Linked DNA regions of Homo sapiens: region 1 is linked to region 2. The links come from fine-mapping of genetic effects on gene expression. A gene starts in region 2. The other region holds a variant in brackets. All regions are shown on one strand. Distances are between the middles of the regions.

The links.
Region 1: its variant is fine-mapped to the expression of LAPTM5 in whole blood (INTERVAL, PIP 0.96).

What each region holds. Positions count from the first base shown.
Region 1 is chr1:30,733,521-30,736,429 of GRCh38, reverse strand. It overlaps LAPTM5 (lysosomal protein transmembrane 5), which reads left to right. Exons shown (of 8, transcript NM_006762.3): 7 at 1,165-1,257; 8 at 2,513-2,909. The coding sequence ends at 2,602. Among named protein-coding and RNA genes, the nearest start is that of MIR4420, 4.3 kb to the left of the region's middle. RefSeq lists an enhancer at 2,605-2,909. The variant G/A (reference allele first, on the strand shown) is at 1,235.
Region 2 is chr1:30,756,482-30,759,390 of GRCh38, reverse strand. LAPTM5 (lysosomal protein transmembrane 5) reads left to right here and starts at 1,617. Exons shown (of 8, transcript NM_006762.3): 1 at 1,617-1,732. The coding sequence starts at 1,646. RefSeq lists enhancers at 468-537, 1,606-1,885, 2,014-2,810.

The DNA.
Region 1 (2,909 bases), 23 kb after region 2:
AAAACTACAGATAAGTAGAAAGAAGACAAGCACTCCACCATCCACACCCCACACAGAGAGCATCACTGCTGACAACTGGGTGCATTTCCCCCCAGCCTTTCTGTGGTGGTGGGTGGGCATCTGCAGACCCCAGCTCCTGCTTCCATCTGAGGCCCTGGGCAGTCTCTGCTGTCACCTAATGCCAACCTAGAAACAGAACCTTGCCCCTTTTAGCATCTTCTCCAAGGACTGACCTAGCACAAACGCACTAGTGAGTGTACAGTGAGAACACCCCTGAAGGCCTCATGGGGGAAGCCAGTGTGGGCTTTCCATGGCACTCTCTACTGCAGGACCCCTCCGCAGACCCCAGCACACAGCTCCGTCCCCCAGCTCCCCTTCTGTTTTTTATCCTCCAGAATGAGGGGCTTCCCTCTTTGACCCTCATTCTGCCTCTCTGGCCCCCTCCACCGACTTGATTTTCCCTGGGCCTTCATGCTTCATTCTTTGTCACTCCGTACCTCCATATGTCTCCTTGCCCCACCTATGTGCCCATCAGGGAATCCATCAAACAAGACCTTCCAGTACAGGACCCTCTCCTCTTACTCAGGGGGCATCCTGGGGGTTTTCTGTTGTTTCTTGAGCTTGCCCCTTGGGATTGTATGCCCCACTCTGGAAAGCTTCTGCCCAATTCTTACATTAACTTGCATCAGCTGATGGACATGTACTAACTGTTCCTCCTTTATAAACATGGACCAATACTGCACATGCTGTTTTGTAATCTGCTTCAGAAAACAACATATCGGAAGCAATTTTGAAGAAAACATGTCCCACCATCAGCTCTGTTTCGAGATGGGCAGGGCTGTCTCAGGAGGTAGTGAGCTTCCAGGCAGTGTGGGCAGTCAAGCAGGAGCTGTGGGACTATTGCCAGGGAAATTGGAGGGTGGGCTAGAAGCCCCCCAAATCCCCTTGCTATGTGGTATCTGTGGGGCAATGAAAAGGGCAATACCTGGAATATTCTGGACTGGCTGGTGAGGAACCCCCAACCAGAATGAGAGGTCCGAGCAGGAGCAGCTGGATGCTGGCTTCTGGAGAGAGTGGTGGCTCCTGCCTGGCATATGTCCTAGGCCTGCTGGAGCGTGAGAAGGACGCTCAGCAAAGCACAGCCTGACCTGGGCCTTTTTCCAGGTCTACATGTTCAAGTGCGTGTGGCGGTGCTACAGATTGATCAAGTGCATGAACTCGGTGGAGGAGAAGA[G/A]AAACTCCAAGATGCTCCAGAAGGTGAGTGTGGCTGCAGGTGGGTGCCAGCCCTGTCACTAACTCCCTGTGCCATTTGGGTCAAGTTTCCTTCCCTCTCTGGACCTTGGTTTCTCTATTTGTAAGATGAGGGTTGGAACAGAAGAAATGTGTTCTCTTTCAGTTCTGGTAGTCTAAGATTCATTCACTCACTCATTCATTTATTCAGTATTTACTGCCTCTCACTCTTTGCTAGTCTCATATCGATTCCAGGAGGCGCAGAGAAAACTAAGATGCCACCTCTGCCTTAGAGGAGTGTACAGTTCAGACACATAGATACAATTACAACTTGGTGTGAAGCACAGGGACAATAAGCACAGAGGAAGGACCTGGCCTCTTCTCAGGTATCAGGGAAGCCTTCCTGGAGGAGGTGACAGTTAACTGGTCTTGGAGGGTCAATGGATATGAGATAGCTGGGAAAGCAGAAGGAGGCTTTCCGGGAAGAGAGGATGAGGTGTGCTTAGAAGCAGCTTATTGGAAAGTGACGGTTTAAATTCCTGGTAACTTACTTTCCTCACCTGTAAGGTGGAGATTGTATTAGCTAAGACACTTTTGGTTGCAAGTGGCAGAAACCCAACTCAATCTGACTTCAGGAATTTACTAGCTCACAGAACTTAGCAGCCAAATGTAGGTCTGGCTTGGGCCTGGCTGAGTCCTGACATCAGGATATGATCTCGTCCTCTCCAACTCTTGACTCTACTTTCCTTGATGTTGGCTTCATTTTCCGGAAGCCCATCCCTTGTGGTGGCAAAAAGGCTGCCAAAACCCCTAGGCAGATATCCCACCCTCTCAGAAATCCCAACAGAAAAAGAAGGTCCCAGGAGTATGTCTGATTGGACCAACTTGGGCCACGTGCCTATCCCCAAACCAAGGACTATAGCCAGGGGGATGGAATTCTACTTTGAGTGGCCAAGTCCAGCCACCTCGCTGGATCTGAGGGATGGGACCAGTTCTTCTGAAGGTATATGGACTGAGAATGTTTTCCCAAGGAAAATGGTGCACTGTTTTCAAAATAAGGGGGACTTGATGCTGAATAGGCAAAGGCAAATATGTCCACTACAGGGCTGGGAACTGCACCTATCTCATGCAGGCAATGTCTAGCACATAGCAAATATCCAAGACCTGCCAGTCATTATCATCATCATTTTGCCAGAGGTGGGGGTTTGGGTCCCATGACCCCAGGTTGGAATTGCAGGTCATTCTTGACCATACTCAGCCCTCATCTCTCTGTCTCTCCCAGGTGGTCCTGCCGTCCTACGAGGAAGCCCTGTCTTTGCCATCGAAGACCCCAGAGGGGGGCCCAGCACCACCCCCATACTCAGAGGTGTGACCCTCGCCAGGCCCCAGCCCCAGTGCTGGGAGGGGTGGAGCTGCCTCATAATCTGCTTTTTTGCTTTGGTGGCCCCTGTGGCCTGGGTGGGCCCTCCCGCCCCTCCCTGGCAGGACAATCTGCTTGTGTCTCCCTCGCTGGCCTGCTCCTCCTGCAGGGCCTGTGAGCTGCTCACAACTGGGTCAACGCTTTAGGCTGAGTCACTCCTCGGGTCTCTCCATAATTCAGCCCAACAATGCTTGGTTTATTTCAATCAGCTCTGACACTTGTTTAGACGATTGGCCATTCTAAAGTTGGTGAGTTTGTC
Region 2 (2,909 bases):
GCCTCAGGGCCCTCCTGGCCCCTGGTTTCCTGATCTCCAGTTCCTCTGGTCTTGCTACTCTTAGACAAAGGAGGACTTCTCTTGGTTTTCTGCCTACCCAGCCAGAAGATCCCAGGCCATGGGCCTGTGGAGCCAAAGTTCTTAACCACTGCACTGTGTCACCTTTCTATGATGTCAGGCCTCAGCAAGGCTTATGAAGGAACAGGAACAGCCTTGAAAATGAAGTTGGGAAGGGATAGGCCAGGCCTCCCAGGAGCCCAAAGCTTGCAGAGTCCCCTTGGTCTCATTGGCACATGGAGAATGGATTGATCAAGTCCACCAATCAAGTTTTGTGGGTCTAACAGAGCAACTCCTGCCAAGTGGGAGGAGCTTAGGGACTTTCTATAACCTCTCCTGGGGCAGAAATGATGGGCTGCAGCAGTGTCCAATCCTAACTCCATGATCTCCTGGGAGGGCAGGGCTTCATGGCAGTTCCTGTCTGCTCTGCACTAGAAGCTTGGCATTGCAAAGGGGCTCAGCTGTGGAATGAAGCAGGGCTTCTTCCAGAAATGTTGCATGTACTTCCTATTCCCTTTCTTTATTGCAATATGGATAATTTATCATCTGAGGAGGGAGTAGAGATTCCAGGGTAGCTTGCCTAAGAGTTGTGGCTTATTAATTCCAACTTTTTGCAAGATCAAGGGGGAAAAGCAATCCCTGATTTTGTGTGAGTATGGGGATTGGGTCTTGAGGCCCTGAAAGTGAGGTTCGGGTCTCACAGATTGCTGTGAAGAGTTATTGACCCACCTAGAAGAGAAGCCTAGCCCAGGGCCTGGCGCACAGTTGATGGGTTTGCTTCCTGGTTATTCTTCCGTCCTTGTCTGGAGCCCTGCACGCCTCTTCGTAGCTTAGGAAGAACAAGCTTCTCCCTGCGGCTCAGGGTGAGGAAGTGGGAGAGAACACCAGCTCCAGGGAGGCTTCTAGCACCAGTCAGCCTCAGTTAAAATCCTTGCACCTTCATTGACTAGCTGTGTGACCTTGCACGAATCATTCCCCCTCTCTGTGCCTCAGTTTCTTCATCTGTAAAATGGGGATCATAATAGTACCTCTCTCAAAGGATTGAGGTGAGGATGAAAGGAGTGAATCCAGGAGCATGCCTGGAAGAGGCAGGAAATGCCTCCTAGACAATAGCTATTTTTGCAGCCAGACAGATCTGGGTTTGAATTCTGCCACCAGTGCTAACTACTGTGTGATTTGGGGCAAGTGCCTTGACCTCTCTGGACAGCTGTTTCCTCATCTGGAAATGGGCTTGGTAACAGTCCTGGCTTCCAAAGTTGGTAGTGTTCTTCTAGTAAGCAAGCTGTGTGAAACGGTGGAACCCTGGCCCTGGTGCAGAGAAGGGCATGATGACCGTGTTAGGGTCTGTCCTCTCTGGAACCCCCTCCTGGGAATGGCAGAGGGCAGTGGGGTGCTCTGAGGCAGGCTGCTGCCCTGTCCCCACTCCCCCTCCCCAGCTGCCCCGCCCCAGCTGTGACGACCTTGTCCCTGCCTGTCTAAGGGGCAGGAAGGAAGTGAGGAGGGCAGCCAGCAGCTTCCCCTTCTCTGCCCTGCTCCAGGCACCAGGCTCTTTCCCCTTCAGTGTCTCAGAGGAGGGGACGGCAGCACCATGGACCCCCGCTTGTCCACTGTCCGCCAGACCTGCTGCTGCTTCAATGTCCGCATCGCAACCACCGCCCTGGCCATCTACCATGTGGTGAGTGTGCGGGCCCCGGGTGTGTGTGCGTGCGTGCTTGTGTGAGTGTGAATGTCTGCGGTGACCCGTCATCTACGGAGCCCCACAAATGAAAGAACTCCTGCTCTCCACCTCTCTGGGGGACCCTGGGCAAATCCCTGTCCTGCTCTGGGCCTCAGTTTCCTTCTCTGTCAAATGGCTGGGGGTACCCTGGGGAGATGCCGCAAGAGTGAGGAGTAAGGGAGCTGGAATCCACTTTCCAGGCAAATGTAACTGACGTTCACTCCGAGGCTGGCTCCGTTTCTGCCTCTGTGAGATGGGGCACAGCAGCAGCCGGAAGGTTATTTGTGTGCAAAGCCAACAGCAGATGTGAAAGTGCTTTGGAAGGCAGGGATCTTGGGAGGAACGTGGGCTGGGATTGTTTGACCGGGATGTGAGGTCGGCCGCAGACACAGCCCCGATTCTTCCCCTGGGGCCTGGAGGGAGCCTGGGCCACTCGAGGGGATGAGAAGTGGGGATCTCCCCTTTGTGCCTCCAGTGGGGAGGCAGGGGCCGTGTCCTCTCAGCTTCCAGCTCAGTCAAACCACGGCCTTCTGCCCACCAAAGAGAACTTGAGACCTGTGCTAATCATTAGGGTAACTTGTCCGGCCCAAGCTCTTGTTGGGCAACTTGTGAAGTCACGGCTGTCACTGGTTCCTCCTTTCCTGGTGACTCACAGTGTGGTCTTGGGCAAGTCACAGTGCCCGGGGGCCAAGGCTGCCCCTCTGCCTGGGGTGGCTGAGGGTCAGTGTCCTTGTACTGTCCTGCCTAGACCCACCCTACTCCCAAACTCCTGGCCACACTCATCTCCCCTAGACCCAAGCGACTTCCTCCTGGGGTGACTCAGGGCCTGTGGTTAACAGTTTTCTCATGAGTCTGGAAGGGCTTCCTCAAAATTAGCCTAGATCCACATGCTGCGGTGGGTTGCTGCAAACTCAGACCTGCCTGCGTCTGCTTCCTGTCACAGGCAGGGCAGGCAGAGCTGTGGCAAGAGCCCAGCCTTCAGGGGGGCGATGCTGTTCAGTGGTTAGCCCACGGCCTCTGGATGCAGACTCCTGCATGCAAATCCTGGCTTCCCTGCTTCCCAGCTCTGCAGCCTTGGGCAATTTACTTAACCTCTCTGAGCCTCAGTTTTCTCATTTAAAAAAATGGGGATGTG